Regions from separate parts of the Homo sapiens genome. Here region 1 is linked to region 2. The links come from fine-mapping of genetic effects on plasma protein levels. Region 2 holds a variant in brackets. A gene starts in the other region. All regions are shown on their reverse strands.

Region 1 (8,297 bases), not on the chromosome of region 2:
CTGCCTGAGAATATGCATTTTAACTAGATCCCAGGTGATTCTTATACACATTAAAGTTTGAGAAGTCATGCTTTAAAATATAGATTTTCTGCTATTGAAACGATTCCAAAGTTCCCTGACACCAATTTTAAAATTGTTTCACAAGTAACATCAATTAGTACAAAGATACTGAAACAGTTAATAATGGTTACTGATTTGATGCAAATAAGTACAATGCAAAGATTTTGTCCCCTTTCTCTTAAAAAAATGCCCACACCCAGATCCCATCTCATTCCTACCCCACCCCTCACTGGCCAATTTCATCAACATCCCTAAGGGAAGTGTCCAATCATTGAACCTCTTCCCAAATACTTTCAATGTGCAGTTGAGAACCACTGTTTTGGAAGGCAGCATTATAGCTAAAATATGTATAAAACCCCATCCACTGTTTTTTCCCAAAAGAAATCAAGAATGCATGGAATAATTGCTTTTAATATACTCATTTATTTTGTTTACTCAAGGATCACACATTAGAAATTTATTTTTAACCTACAACCACATGTCTTTCTCATTCCAATGCCCTTGCAGCTCTCCTTTCCTGAAAATGGAGACTAGGAGAAAACGGAGGAGGAGAGGTTCAGGGTGCAAGGCCAGCCACACACACAGGTAAATGAGGGCCTCTAAGCTGAAGGAACTGCAGAGCAGGGAGGGAGCCAGACTGATGCTGGACCCTCAGCAAATGCCCACGAACTGACTGAACGAATGTATCGCCTACCCAACAACCTACCTACTAGCACACATTAGTCTGGTTGGAGGATTGCATGATTGAAAAATGATACTATTTTAGCCACTAATCTGATAATTTGCATATTACAATCAGAAATGGGCATATCTGTAGTGTTGCAAATCATTAGAAAAGACTTTGCAGTAAATTAGACATGCCAGGCACTGGGCTAGATGCTATGAATAAGGTGGTGTGCAAAGCAAGCAGTCCCTGTCTTCATGGAACTTACACTTCATTGAGGAACACAGAAATTCAACCAAAAGTCACAGTAAACTGAGTAACCAATGAATTCATTGTACTTAGACACGTCTGAAAACATTAAGTAAATCTTGAATATCTGACTTAAAATGGACTGTTAAAATGCATTTGTCAGATAATGTGCCTACGAAATACACTGTCTCATTTTTTTTAACTTCCTTGAAACTTAATCATTTGTAGGGTTAAATGAGGCAGGATGCTTGACGTTTGTGCTACTTCGTTATCTGTGTTTTCAAACAGGCAGTGCACACCTCTACATCAGATTTTCAGTAGTGACTGCTGTCCTGGGTAACAAACAACCAGGGAGGTTGGTTTGTGCATATTGGGGGATCGAGGGAAGAAGTTAAAAGGGCAAAACATCTTCAGTTTTCTGAAAAGTTTATCTTTATAGCTAAACCCTAAGCTTTGAATATGGTTATATGGATGTTAAAGACACATACACATGCACACACACACACAGAGCAACTTTTTGAAAGGGTTTTTATTTTTTTTCTTTGTAAACCAAAGTATGAATACTATGTGGTAAATATATAGCAGAAGCCACACACTATTTTCTCTTTGGCAGGGTGGTGGGGGAAAAGCCAAGCTACACCGGATCTAGTAGATATGTATTTTTTACATCTAGGCACATGCAATCTGCAAACATTTAGGAGGCTGATTCAATTTTATCTATTCAAACATTTAAGAAAACAAAACTTTTTAACCGTCACCGTAATTTTTACACTATTCTGGGCATTCTTTTAAATGCATTTAAAAACTCAAACTGCTTTTCCTTGAGGACTTGCATACCTTCTTTTCTCCACCTTTAAACAAAAACAATAAAACTAATTCGTCATTTTTAACTGTAAACTACAAACATGTTACTAGATAGTTTGTTCTCATTCAAATGCATTTAGAAACCTCAGATAGTTGATTCACAACTTTAGTGGGAATCAAAAAACTACTGATTTATTTGGTACCAAGTTCCAATCCAAAAGAGCCGATATAAGTGAAAATGTTAAATCAGCGGCAAGTCAAATGGAGACTATTCTCTTAGCTAAGACTTTGAAAGAAGATCTCTAACACACATAAAAGGGGAAAGAATTACAGAGTGAACCCCTAGGCACGCATCAGCGCTTCAGCTATTACCAATGTATGGCAAATCTTTTTTCATCTGTAAGCAACCAGAAATTATTTTGAAACAAATTCCAGACACCAAAGCAGTTTTATCTGTAAATATTTCAGAATGTATCTCAAAATGATTAGGACTCCTTTGGGTAACAATTGTAGACACAATATCCAGTAAAATGCATCCCGATCTAGTGGTATATTCATATGAACACATTGTTCCTAATATTTTTTCTTTACTGAAGGAGATAGCCTTTTTAAAATGCAATACAAAATTGGGTTCAGAATAATAGCTAAATTATTTTGCACAAGTCAAAGGAACCGAATTTTCATGGTATTTAAGAAAACCGTACCCAGAAGTCTGATGACATTAACTTCTTCAAAGGTATATTTTCTGGCTAGACTTACTAACTCACACGTTTACTTTGAAAAGGGGTTCTGAATGTTTCACTATCATCCATACAGCATCAAGACTGCTAAAGGATGATGGGAGATCACTGAAAGCCCTGACTCCTCACCCACGGGGACCACCGAGAATTCCTAGGGAAAAGCTGAACAACTCTAACAAGAGCCCAGCAGGTCACTCTTTCCTACACAGCCATGCCACCGATTTCCACAGCTCCTGCCAAGCCAAGCTGTTCATGGTTCCTAGAACTCCTTCATTTCCTACTGCTCGTTCAACATTGGACACTCTCTTCACTATTATGGCAATGAAAATGCCATATCCCGAAGGTGTTAGAAAAGATAAACAGTGGAGAACTACTGCATCTTTGATCCCTTTTCTGATTGTTGCTCTTTTGTTTGACTAAGAATTTTAATGGTTTTATTAGGCCACTCTGCTATCTGGCTCCATGCCCATAGTAAGTGGACACTGTCTGTTGAATAAATGATTCTTAACTCATTCCATCGCAGGTGACGGTGCCACGCACAACGCTGGCACTCCATGCACAAGCACTAAATGGGGGTTATTAACAAAATGCTGGATGAGAAAATGGGTAAGCCATTCTTATTGCAACACACTCCAATGAAAGAAAGACGTTTAGTCACTTTCATATAGATTTGTTATCTGTGTTGCAAGCAAACCACTCAAAAGTTGTCTTTTTAGAAACAACAAAACTCTCAATGAGTAGATTATATTTAATGCAGATTTTCTGAAGTGTGGCTCATTGCATTTCTACTTTAAGTAGGTAATCACACTAGTTCTAGAAAATGCAAACTAGCGGATAATGAATACTTAACAAAAAGCCTATGATTAAAAGTAATGGAGTTCGAGACATTGGCACATGTCAAAAAACCATACAATCCAAGCAATGCCATGTTTTGATGCATCCCGTTTGGTTTAGTAATCACCTTTGAATCTGAAAACGAATGTAGTCCAAACCCAACTTTCTTTTCCCATAAAAAAAAATGCACAGTCAGCCCCCCACTTCCTCTGAGAAAGAGTTCACAGCACCAGACAAGAATATTTGAATGAATCCAACCAACTGCACTGCAATTTCCAAGAAAACACAAGAGCATAAACCACCAGAAAGCATAATATTACAAATTTACCCCTTCCTTCCTACTATCTCTCTGCAGTTCCTAGCCGTCGTGCAAAAAACCTCTTCATCTTTCCGAAGGTTGGTTATTTGCTAGACTGTAGTAACACTGTGCCATCACACTCACCTCGCTTCCTTCCTCCGCCCACATCCCTAGCAGGCACGTGGGGCTGTCCCTCTTCCTTCACCCCCACAGGACAGCGCCACAGCCGCAGAGCCCCCATCCCGAGCCCGCGCCTCTCTGGTCGCGCCGTGTCATTCTGCCCACCCATTGGGCGACCTGGGCACGAGCACCGCGACCTCCCGCTCCGCGCAGCCCTCCAGCACCGTGGCCCCAGCACACCTGCAGAGCAGCCAGGCGCAGGAACCGAAACCCGCCGGGTGGTGGGCGGGAAGGGAAAGGTAGATGCCCAAGTGAAGGCGCTCATCTTTTTTCCTACGTGAACAGAAGTTGATTCTTAACTTCAAGTGAGAAATGACAGGGAGAAAAAGTATGCAATCACTACCAGAAAAGGTGAGAGGCCAGTGTTGTTTCCCAGCGAAGGGACGGGGTGAGATTCAAACCCATCGTCCGGCCAGGGGAGTCCGCCCCCAGAGCACCGAGAAGCTGGGGTGCGTGGGCGGAGAGAGAGCAGGGTGCGCCCGACAGCCCTGCGCCAGGTTGTCCCCAAACTCAACACTTCCTCTCTCCCTTCTGGAGTCACTTTCCCTTCCGGAATATGCAAGCTCTGGGTGGCCCAGCCCTGCCGCCAGACTCAGTTTCCAAGTGCGGGGGAAGGAGATGGGCGCTCTCAGCCGCGATCCCCTGGGAAGGTGGCCACTCACCTGCGCTCTGAAATAGAAGAACAGGGCGACGCTGCAGACAACCTGGCCCAGCCCCAGCCCCAGGAGGGCCACGAACATGGAGCGGGAGGCGGCAGGGGGCTGGTGCGGCGCAGGCGGCGGCGGGGCGTGCAGGGGGCCCTCGTGCGGGGCTCCGGGGCCGCCGCCCATCTCCTCCGAGCCACGCAGGTACTTGGTGTAGTCTCTGCTGGCGCGGCGCATGGCGCTCGGCCCTCTCGCTTCGGAGCTCTCCTCCCTCTCCCGCTCCCTCCCCTTCTTGTCTGCGGCCAACTCCGGAGGCTGCGGCGGAGCCTCGACGTGGGGCGCCGACTTGGAGCCCGGCTTTGGGTCCTGGGGCGCGCGGGCGAGCGGGCAGGGCGCCCGGCAGCCCCAACTCTTATAAACCGCTTGGAGAGCCCTGGCCTCGGGAGCCAATCAGCCCCAGGCGAGGCTGCCTCTTCCACTCCCACCTCTGGCTCCCCTTCCTTCCTTTCGCCCTCCCTCTCTCTCAATCTCTGTCACTGAAGGGCCTCCTTCATGGGGGCCCTCCAAGGAGGAGGCTGGGGGCTACTCCAGTGGTTCCAGACTCCCCTTGCCATCCTCAGCTGTCTTTCTGGAGGTCCAAGAGATGGGTTAAAGAAGACGCAGAGGACACCTTTGCTAAAGGATAAGGATTGCACCTCAGACATTCCTCCTGCATCCATTCTAGTTTGGTAGAGAAGGGACTTCACATCCTGGAGTCTCGGTTTCCTCCTTAGGATTTAGAAAGTTAAATTTGATGATCTCTGAAGACCCTTCCTGTCCAACCTCTCCCCCCAAAGTGCTTCCAAATATAGTTTCTCAAAGTATTTTGGAAGACTTCGAAAATTTCACAATCCCCTTCCCAAATCCCTATTTCTGCATCTTGAAGGTGACATTGAGCGAGGCAGGTCTTGAATGTGGCAGTAGAGAGCCTATAGACACCAACTCTGACTTTATAAAGATGAAAACAGTGCAGAGAAAAGGGTAAAGGGGCGTGTAGCCAGAAGCAAGCATCCGAGGAGGGCTCACCCAACAGTCAGGAAAGAGATGTAACACGAAGCTGATGATACAGTTAAATGTTAGTTTCATTGCTAAAGAAACCTTGCTAGGGCTTTTTAAAAACCTCTATTCAGAACTGTGGCTCTTAGTGAGAAAACAAAAATATTAACATTGCTCACAAATTCTGATACTTCTTCAGAAGGAAGTTGCTGACCAATTTAAACACCCATGAAACTTAGGATGTTTCCACTTTTTTATTAATACAGTTAGCCCACAGTATCCATGGGTTCCACATCTGTGGATGCAATGAACCACAGATCAAAAATATTTGAAAAAAAAAAAAAGGATGGCTGTGTCTGGACTAACATCTGTAGACTTTTTTTCTTGTGATCATTTCCTAAATGATACACAACTAGTTACATAGCATTTACATTCTATTAAGTATTATAAATAATCTAAAGATAATTTCAAGTGTACAAGAGGATGTGTGTAGGTTAAATGCAAATACTATGCCATGATATGTTAAGAAACTTGAACATCCATGGATTTTGGTATTTGCGGGGAGGGGTTTGGTGGTGTCCTGGAACCAGTCTTCCATGGATATCAGGGGACTACTGTGCCTTTTTATTTTGCATCCTCTTTCTGCCTAATTCGCTAATGAGTATTTCTCTAGGCAAGATTTGTGACAAATGACAGGTCTCTGAGTTATTAAAGCATGTGTTCTAAATTGAACACTTAGACCTCAGTAAATGTTGAGGAAGAGTGACCAGGTTGAATTTTTTTTAAAGGCAGCCATACAAAGAAAATGATCTGTTCAAATTCAAAAATGCCTTTAGCATTTATATGTGTATCAATATATAGGTTGGTGGAGAAGGGACAAAAAATTTTCAGACTCAAACATAGAAACAATTGACGTTAATTCTACTCCTTGTAGTCTTTGACCTCTTCCCACTTTTTGTTTGTTAACTTTGGGAAGTAGGTTTATTGTCTCCTCCTCCCCCTCCTCCTCCTCCTCTTCTTCCTCATTCTCTCCCTGCTCCTTGACTCAGGAAATAATTCCATATTTCTTCTTTCTTATAAATATTGATTGGGATCAAAGATTTTTAAAATGTGTTATAACAACTAAACCCACAATGATTTTACTATAGTGTCTTCCATTCTTTTTAATGGGTTTTTATACAACAATGTTTTATACATGTTTTTAATTCCTTGACATCTTGATCCTCAGGTTACAAGAAAGTCCCTCAAATCCCTGAATTATGTTCAGGTATACTTGACCCAGGAGCTTCATATATGGGACCGTATGTTACATTCCTACAGAGTTCTTCATATGACATTTCTACTAGTACTCCAAAAATGTCATCCCACTATCTTCTGGCTTCCATAGGCTGTATTAGATACTCCACTGTCAGTCTACCTGCTGCTGTTTCACAGGTAATGTATCTTTCTTGCCTATGTATTTACTTATTCCTTTGTCAACATTCACTCCCCAACTAATAGATAAACTCCATATGTTCAACGACTCTTGCTGTATTATTCACCTCTGTAACATTCACCATTTCCTAAAAATGTTGCCTGCTATAGTAGGTGCATGGTAAATACTTGCTGAATAAAATTTGAGCAAAGAAATCTTCAAAGCCTCTGCCAGTCTCCCAGTCTAAGCCATGCTATATCTTATCAGAATGAATCACACTTGCCCCCTGAAGAATTCTGTGCACACTGATCAGGATTTTCTTCTAAAAGCAAAAGTATATGTCATTTCCATACCTGCAATTCTTTGGTGGCTTCTAAGTGTTGTTGATAAAGTCGAAACTCTGAAGATTAAAAACCTTCAATAGGCCAGGCGCAGTGGTTCACTTCTATAATCCCAGCACTTTGGGTGGCCGAGGCGTGAGGATCACTGGAGCCCAGGAGATGGAGAATAGCCTGGGGAACATAGGGAGACCCTATCTTTACAAAAAATGAACAAATTAGCCAGGCATTTTGGTGCACATCTCTGGTCCCAGTTACTCAGAAGGCTGAGATAGGTGGATTGTTTGAGCCCAGGAGGTCGAAGCTGCAGTAAGCTACAATCATGCCACTGCACTCCAGCCTGGGAGACAAAGCAAGATTCTGTCTCAAAAATTAAAAAAAAGATAAAAATAAAAATAAAACTCTCCAATAGTCCTTCACAAGCTGGCTCAAGACTCCTTTTCTACATCAGCTTCAAATACTACCTAACTGGAGCGCTCATCTCTCCAACTTCTACACCTGGAGGACTCTCCCACTTGTCTTTCCTTTCTCAGCTCAAATGTCGCCTCTCCAGAAGTCTTTCTCAGCTCTCCTCACCCAGGTGGCTCCCTCTGTTTTATGCTCCCATGGCATCCTTAAATTCTCCTGTCATGTCACTCATGCATTTCTTCATTTACTCTACAGATATATTAGTGAGAACCCACTATATGCCAGCACTGGGCTAGAAACATGGTGATCAAGATGGAACATGGGGCTTACACCCTAGTGGGAAAAAAAAAAAGATTCAACAAATCATCACACAAATCACTAACAAAACCGTGATTAGTACTTTGAAGGCAAAGTGCAAGTACAATGAGAATCTTATAATACTAGGGTCTAGACCTATGTGGGGAGTCAGAGAAAACTCTTAGTACAATGCAAATGTGGGGAGTCAGCGAAAGCTCTTAGGCAAAGATAATGCTTTAAACTACTACTAGATAATGATTTAAACTACTCCCAGAGTAAAAACCACCCAGAGAGAAAGTGGCCAGGAGCTATCCTAAGCTGAGAGTGATTGT
Region 2 (8,340 bases):
AACAAACTAATACAAAGTCTCTCTGCAGCGTCCCAAGTTGGTGCAGGAATTATATGGCAAGGGGACTCACTGAGAGACAAACAGCCTTTTACAACAGAGTCACACTGTATTAGTCTGTTTTGCATTGCTATAAAGAAATACCTAAGCCTGAGTAATTTATAAAGAAAAGAAGTTAATTAGCTCACGGTTCTGCAAGCTGTACAGGAAGCATGGCAGCTTCTGCTTCTAGGAGACCTCAGGAAGCCTCCAATCATGGCAGAAGGCAAAGGGGGAGTGAGCTGTCTCACATGGCCAGAGCAGGAGGTAGAGAGGGGAAGGTGCCACACACTTACAAACAACCAGATCTCAGGACAACTCACTCAGTATCAGGAGAACAGCACCACAAAATTGTGGTTAATCATTCATGAGAAGCCTCCCACGACCCAATCACCTCCCACCAGGCCTTACCTCCAACATCTGGGATTACAATTCAACATGAGATTTGGTGGGAACACAGATCCAAACCATATCACGCACAAATTGCAATTACTTCACACTCACGATAACCCATTAATCTGTGAAGGATTAATCTGTTCATGAAGGCAGGGCCCTCATGATGGAATCACATCTTAAAGCCCCTACGTCTGAGTACTGTTACATTGGGGATTTAGTTTTAATATGATTTTCAGAGCAGAAAAACATTCAAACCATAGCAATATGTATTGAATATCTAGATCATTTCCAAATAAGATATTAATATGATACTGAAACATTTATTGCTGAACATAAATTTAGAACTTACTTTGCCTACCTATTACAGAAGAACAAAAGATATTTGGGCCTATTAAACCTTTCCTCTGCCATTTCCTGTCCTGTGTCATAGGACTAGGAATCGTGTTTCTAGAAAGTATGAAATCGTGTGCTTGCAAACTTGGAAGAAAACAGTTCATGACTGCATACCTTCTAGTTCTCTAGTGTTCACTGGAAATTAAAGACACTAAAAGTTAACAATTCTTATTAATTAATCATATTAATGTAATTGGAATTTCTAGAAATATTAGGGGAAGCAACTTTATACGCAAAGCATAACAGAAAAATAAGGTGTATTTTTTCTTTGAAACCTATGAAATATACTGGCCAGGCACGGTGGCTCATGCTTGTAATCCCAGCACTTTGGGAAGCTGAGGCGGTGGATCACCTGAGCTCAGGAGTTCGAGACCAGCCTGGCCAACATGTTGAAACCATGTCTCTACTAAAAATACAAAAATTAGCCAGTCATGGTGGCAGGTGCCTGTAACCCCAGTTACTCCGGAGGCTGAGGTGGGAGAATCGCTTGAACCCAGGAGGTGGAGGTTGCAGTGAGCCAAGATAGCACCACTGCACTCCAGCCTGGGCGACAAAGCAAGACTCTTTCTAAAAAAACAAAAATGAATAAACAAAAAAACTATGAGACAGAAAAGATGGGTTTTTGTTAAAATAAAAAATAATATTGTTTTAGTTTGAAAATTATTCAAAGGTTGTTTCAAAATGAATCAATAAAAAACATAAAACTGAATGGATATTGTCTTAGTCTATTTTGTGCTACTATAACAGAACATCTGAGACTGAGTGATTTACGTAAATATGCAGATTGATTTTTTACTGCTCTGGAGGTTTGGAAGTCCAAGGTCAAGGGGCCCATATTTGGTGAGGGCCTTCTTGTGGCCTCATCACCTGGTGAAAGGTGGAAGGACAAGAGGGCATACATGGGAGGAAGGGAAAATGTGCAAGAGGGGGACAAACTCACTTTTATAACCAATCTACTCCTGCAATAACGAACCCACTCCCACAATAATGTATTAATCCATTCATGTGGGAAGTACCCTCTTGATCTAATCATCCCTTAAAGGTCCCACCTCCCCCCACTGTTGCATTTGGAATTAAGTTTCCAACACATGAACTTTGGGGGCACACAAAAATCACAGCAGAAATAAAAAGTTAGAGAAAACAAGAGAGAATCATATGTGCTCAAGTTAATTAAACCGAATGAATTTATTATAGTACTTTTAAAAATGAGCTTAAATACTGAGTGAACTGACATAAAACTAAAATTTGAATTTCTCTGTTAAAAGGACAAAATAGGCTGGGCGCAGTGGCTCACGCCTGTGATCCCTGGACTTTGGGAGGCCAAGGCGGGTGGATCACCTGAGGTCAGGAGTTTGAGACCAGCCTGGCCAACATGGTGAAACCCCATCTCTACTAAAAATACAAAATTAAACGGGCATGATGGCAGGTGCCTGTAATCCCAGCTACTTGGGAGGCTGAGGCAGGAGAATCACTTGAACCCACAAGGCGGAGGTTGCAGTGACCTGAGATGGGGCCATTGCTCTCCAGCCTGGACGACAGGGCAACACCCCATCTCAAAAAAAAAAAAAAAAGCAATACAGAAGGTTACATGAATGTAAAAAACCTTTTAGATCTCAGTCTTTCTAAACAATTAAAAACCTAATAAAGGCAACAAATGAGTTATTATTATTATTACTATTATTATTATTTTGAGACAGGGTCTTGCTCTGTAGCCCAGGTTGGAGTGCAATGGTGTGATCACGGCTCACTGCAGCCTCCACCTCCCAGGGCTCAGGTGATTCTCCCACATTAGCCTCCCAAGTAGCTGGGACTACAAGCATGTGCCACCATGCCAGCTAATTTTTGTTTTTTATTTTATTTATTTATTTATTTATTTTGAGACAGAGTCTTGCTCTGTCACCAGGCTGGAGTGCAGTGGCGCGATCTTGGCTCACTGCAACCTCCGCCTCCCTAGTTGAAGCGATTCTCCTGCCTCAGCCTCCCGAGTAGCTGGGACTACAGGCACACGCCACCAAGCCCAGCTAATTTTTGTATTTTTAGTAGAGATGGGGTTTCACCATGTTGGCCAGGATGGTCTTGATCTCTTGACCTTATGATCCACCCACCTCAGCCTCCCAAAGTGCTGGGATTACAGGGTAAGCCAAGGTGCCCGGCCTAATTTTTTCTTTTTGGTATTTTTGGTAGCTGTAAGGTTTTGCCATATTGCCCAGGCTGGTCTTGAACTCTTGGGCTCAAGTAATCCACCCACCTTGGCCTCCCAAAGTGCTGGGATTACAGGCATGAGCCACTGCACCTGGCTGGGAATTATTTTGATAAAATGTAAAATATTGTTTCTTAGGCTGGTTACGAGAAAGGGAAAGAAAAACCTGCAGTCTGACTGTTCCTCCTTATGGAAAACCCATCTAGAAAATGCTAGTGTTTTCTATTGATAGACAGTTCAGGACTTTTTGCTTCCTAGTTTTCACTAAAATTTAAAGTTACTAAGGATAACAATTGTAGTTAGTGTATAATTCTGTACATAAGATTTGCCAAAGATGTGTTCTTATTAAGAAAAAGAATAAATTAGTCTAATTCAGAAGTTATCTAAAGGTTAATTCTAATTATGGACTTGCAAAGGTTATTTATTAAACAAGGTAGAAAGGAACCAGTAAGTAGGGGAGAGAGATGTGAAGTAAGTTATGGATTTATGGGAGGCGTGGTGGCTCACTGTGGGAGGCTGAAGCAAGTGGATCGCTTGACCTTAGGAGTTCAAGATCAGCCTGG[G/A]TGACCTGCCAAAAAGCTCATTTCTAACAAAAAAAAAAAAAAAAGGAAAAGAAAAAAATTATGGTGAAGATATATTTTTGGTAATGAAGGTTAGAAAGAAAAGAGAATAACTTTGTATGAGAAAAAGTCTTGTATGATGAATATATGAATATGTTCTAATATAAATTGAATGATTATTAAAACAAGACAGAAAAAAATTTAGGACAAAATAGAAAGTCCTAGTATGTCATCAATGATCCATGCAAGTACATTGTAAAATATTCTTTAAAATCTGATAGAAAATTGAAAAGTTTGGCTAATTGACATTGCTCGTGGTTAAAGCGCTTAGTCTTGATGAAGGTAAAGTAAGAAGTATTGTAAAGAAATACACTGGCAGTTTGCCAATTCTTCTTTAATATAGTTCATCATGAAGTCCTATTTAACAAGGGGCCACATTTCACACCCACGCTTGCATTGCTTTGTTTCACACTGTACTGCTCTTTTGCAGAGATAGTACTAGCAATAAAGTACTTACTGGTCACATGCCTAAAGTGAATTTCTTAATTGCACAAAATATACAGTGGGATTGGTGGACTTAAAGACATTAATTCGTAAACCAGGAATAAAATATTCTTTTTTTTTTTTTTTTTTTTAGGCTCTGGGTAACATGGTAGCCTCCAAGACAACTGAGTAGGAAAAAAAATTGGGGGTTGGTGTCCTGTTCATTTGTTTTTGCTTTTAATTTGCATTTAGCTGCTGTTTGTTTTCCTTGGGGTTTGGCTTATGCATACAATTGTAAGTCCATTGTCGTGTTTTAGTTTCTTTTCTTTTTTTTTTTTTTTTTGAGATGGAGTCTCGCTCTGTCACCAGGCTGGAGTGCAGTGGCGTGATCTTGGCTCAATGCAACCTCCACCTCCTGGGTTAAAGTGATTCCCCTGCCTCAGCCTCCCGAACAGCTGGGACTACAGGTGTGCGCCACCATGCCCAGCTAATTTTTGTATTTTTAGTAGAGACGGGGTTTCACCATGTTGGCCAGTGTGGTCTCGTTCTCTTGACCTCATGATCCACTCGCCTCAGCCTCCCAAAGTGCTGGGATTACAGGCATAAGCCACCGTGCCCGGCCGTGTTTTAGTTTCTAATGGAAGGCTTGTATTTGGTTCTATGAACAGCCATTTTGTTTCCTATGCATTTCCAACCATTTATCATTTGCTCTATTTACCTAAACTTCCTAAGCTACCTTGGTCAAACCTGCAAAATCGAGAGAGCACACCAGCCATTTAAAATTGGATTGGTTTTGCTTAGCTCTGATGATCTAGAGAGATAGAAGAACTTTAAGCTTCCTGTTAAAAAAAAAAGGCTTACAAGTCCAGCAGAAAAAGAACATTATTGATTTTGTTATCTGAAAAAGCAAGTGAGAGGAGAAATGTTCAAATGGCATTTCTTTTCATGGAAATTCAATTCCATCAATTTAAGTTGGTTTCAGATCCTTTTCTTTAGGCAATGAAGAAAAACTGTGATACGGGCACAAAGTTTTAATATTCAGGAAAGATTGGCCTTGCCCTTCAGAAATTTATACTGACTAGAATTTCTCTAAAATTGCTTTAGTTGTGTTTACCATAACTAAGTGACATTCACTTGGGTTAAGCAGTAATTTTAAAAGTGAGACTTTTCTTTTTTTTTTTTTTTGAGATGGTGTTTTGCTCTTGTTGCCCAGGCTGGAGTGCAATGGCGTGATCTTGGCTCACTGCAATCTCTGCCTCCCTGGTTCAAGCGATTCTCCTGCCTCAGCCTCCCAAGTAGCTGGGATTACAGGCACCTGCCACCATGCCCAGCTAATTTTTATATTTTTAGTAGAGATGGGGTTTTGCCATGTTGGCCAGGTTGGTCTTGAACTCCTGACCTCAGTTGATCCACCCGCCTCAGCCTCCCAAAATGCTGGATTACAGGCATAAGCCACTGTGCCCAGCCAACTTTCTACTGATTTTTTATTCCAACCCTTTTATTACATTTAGGCCTTCATGTGTGTACTTGAAAATAAAATATATACAAGTGTTGCACCAGTTTGAAGTTTCTAGTGGTGAAACTTACCTAAGCAGTTGTCTAGATTAACAATCTTGGAAAGGTGTGATGACGCTTTTTTGAAATAGTTGAAATTATTCTGTGCTTGTTCTTAACTCTGTCCCTGTTTTCTTGTACAATATTTAAGAGAAGGAGATTATCCTTATTCTGAATTTCGAAAACAGATATCCGCATTTACCTTATTTTTTTGTTTGTTTTTTGAGACGGAGTCTTGCTCTCTCACCCAGGCTTGAGTGCAGTGGGAGAGTCTCAGCTCACTGCAACCTCTGCCTCCTGGGTTCAAGAGGTTCTCCTGCCTCAGCCTACCAAATACCTGGGATTACAGGCACACACCACCACACCCAGCTAATTTTTGTATTTTTAGTAGAGACAGGGTTTCACCATGTTGGCCAGGCTGATCTCAAAGCTGTGACCTCAGGTGATCCACCTGCCTTGGCCTCCCAAAGTATAATCCCAAAGTGGGATTACAGGCGTGAGCCACCGTGCCTGGTTGTATTTAGCTTTTTTTTAAATAATGGAGAGGAAAGTTAGTTGTCTTACTTTGATAAGTTTGGCATAAAACCTATCACATTTTTGATGCTTTCGGGCACAGTTCTGTCACTAGATTGTTGGCATTAGACATATGCTATAAGTAACCTAACCACTTTAATATAATGGTTTGAAGTGCCGCAGGCAGTAACTACTGGACATGGTTAATCTGTGACATGTTAGAGAGAATGCTAGGACTTCCTGCAGTGTAAAATCCTGTTAACCAATCCTGTGCTGTCAAGTTAAAGGACTTTGACTCCTGGGTCTGAAAAAGGCACCAACTCTTGCTTAATCTTTTTTTTTTTTTTTTTTTTGAGACAGAGTCTCCATTTGTCACCCAGGCTGGAGTACAGTGGCGTCATCTCGGCTCACTGCAAGCTCTGCCTCCCATGTTCACACCATTCTCCTCCCTCAGCCTCCTGAGTAGCTGGGACTGCAGGCGCCTGCCACCATGCCCGGCTAATTTTTTGTTTTTGTATTTTTAGTAGAGACGGGGTTTCACTGTGTTAGTCAGGATGGTCTCGATCTCCTGACCTCGTGATCCGCCCGCCTCGTCCTCCCAAAGTGCTGGGATTACAGGCGTGAGCCCCCGGGTCCGGCCAACTCTTGCTTAATCTTGAACATTGGCACCAGTCAAAGCTTCGTCTTCAGACCCAGGAGAAGGTGACAATCAAAATGAAGTGCCTTCATGAGACACAGGGCAAGAAATTAAAACTATTCAATCCCTTTAGGCCCAGGGACTATTTTGGAAGAGATGGGCATGTGAGATTGTAAGGACTGATTCTGAGGGATAAAATAAGTCTGGAGTTTTTCTACAAATTAAGCATTAAGATCAAAAGCACACTGATGCAAGGCCAGAGTCTGGGCCCCTGTATCAGAATAACAGGGTTTCCTTGGATCACTGATTTGCTCTTTAATAGAAAATTGTAAAACATTATAGAAGGTTTATGAAAATCTTACATTATGGTCAAACTAATTAAAATTAAATAGATTAGTTGCTATGGGTTTATTAAAGTGAGTTTTAACATTAATAACACACCATACAAGGGTAAAAACTTTGTTGTTTCTTTTGAAGAAAACGTTTGTGTAATATTAATAAGAGATGATGTTGCTATGATTCATCTTTGGTGGAAGTGGGGGATGGAGAGAGAAAGATTGTATTTCAGAAGAAAACTGTAGGATTAGATTAACCTGTGATTCCTGAGTGGCCACGAGGTCACCCATGGTGGCCTCCTCAGCTTGAAGCAGCCAGAAAGATCCAGGGCCAGGTTCCCCGGGATTGAGGAATTAATAAGTAGAAAGGAGGGACTGAAACAGACCCAACTGTCTCATAGGATCGATGTTTATGGTTTATTTGAAAAATCATAGAAATTGATCCTCCCAGTGTTAAAACTTGAGAAAGTTACATTAGTCTTATCTAACTTCCTTTCTCAGGAAACCCACCATCAAGCCTCCCAGACAGTGTCAAGGAACTGAAACTTCCTGAAATCATTGCATTTCAACAGTGAAATGCTACACTCTTCATCCACTATGATTGCCTAACCAGCCAGGTGGTTCCCGTTGACCCACTTCTCTTCATTACTCCTCTCTAATTCCTGTTTTTCCACACATGGTTACATTTCTTATCATGACTCTCTAATTCCTGTATTCCTACCTATGGTTAAATTTCTTCCCTGCTATATAAACCCCTACATTTCCGTGGCAATACTCAGTGTCTCAGTGCTTGACCTTCTGTGTTTCAAGCAGCAGGACCTAGACCCATCCTCAGGTGTTTCAGTAACAGTAACAGCTTGCCTATGGACAATTTTCATGCCCGTGGGTATATGGGGTGCTCAGAAAGTTCACCAGAACACCTGATGTAAAGAACACAACAGGAAATTCATCAAAATTGCCACGACTTCTTATCATTCCACCATCTAAAGATGCTTCAAGCCCAACATCTAGAAATCTCAACTGACTGTCCTCTGGACTCAAAAACTGGGCTTGTATAATTTGCTCCAACCATTAACCTTTACTTTTCTTTCGTTTCCGTAGAAATGCCTCTTATTAAATACTGATTGACCACACCTTATAGAGGCCTAACCTAGATGAAGGACCACCTATAACATCATCTCCTAAAATGAGATACAACTGCCTAACTGGACAAAACTATTCTCATGACTAAGA

Alleles and levels. Alleles are on the strand shown, and positions count from the first base shown. The strength of an association depends on the size of the effect and on how common the allele is.
As copies of A replace G in region 2, the plasma level of the protein whose gene starts at base 4,862 in region 1 goes up (weak association).

What was found. A credible set is the group of variants that fine-mapping cannot tell apart. PIP is the chance, under the fine-mapping model, that this variant and not a neighbour inherited with it causes the effect. The UK Biobank Pharma Proteomics Project read protein levels with antibody pairs (Olink). The fine-mapping took linkage between variants from a reference panel, not from the people measured, so its PIPs are less certain.
Region 1: it holds the start of TNFSF11, and the variant in region 2 is the best candidate, but not a certain one, in a credible set for the plasma level of the TNFSF11 protein (UK Biobank, PIP 0.51).

Annotation. Positions count from the first base shown.
Region 1 is chr13:42,570,717-42,579,013 of GRCh38, reverse strand. It overlaps TNFSF11 (TNF superfamily member 11), which reads right to left and starts at 4,862. Exons shown (of 5, transcript NM_003701.4): 1 at 4,492-4,862. The coding sequence starts at 4,710. RefSeq lists an enhancer at 4,265-4,464 and a silencer at 4,555-4,924.
Region 2 is chr8:23,180,410-23,188,749 of GRCh38, reverse strand. No RefSeq gene overlaps it. Among named protein-coding and RNA genes, the nearest start is that of TNFRSF10D, 21 kb to the right of the region's middle. The variant G/A (reference allele first, on the strand shown) is at 3,589.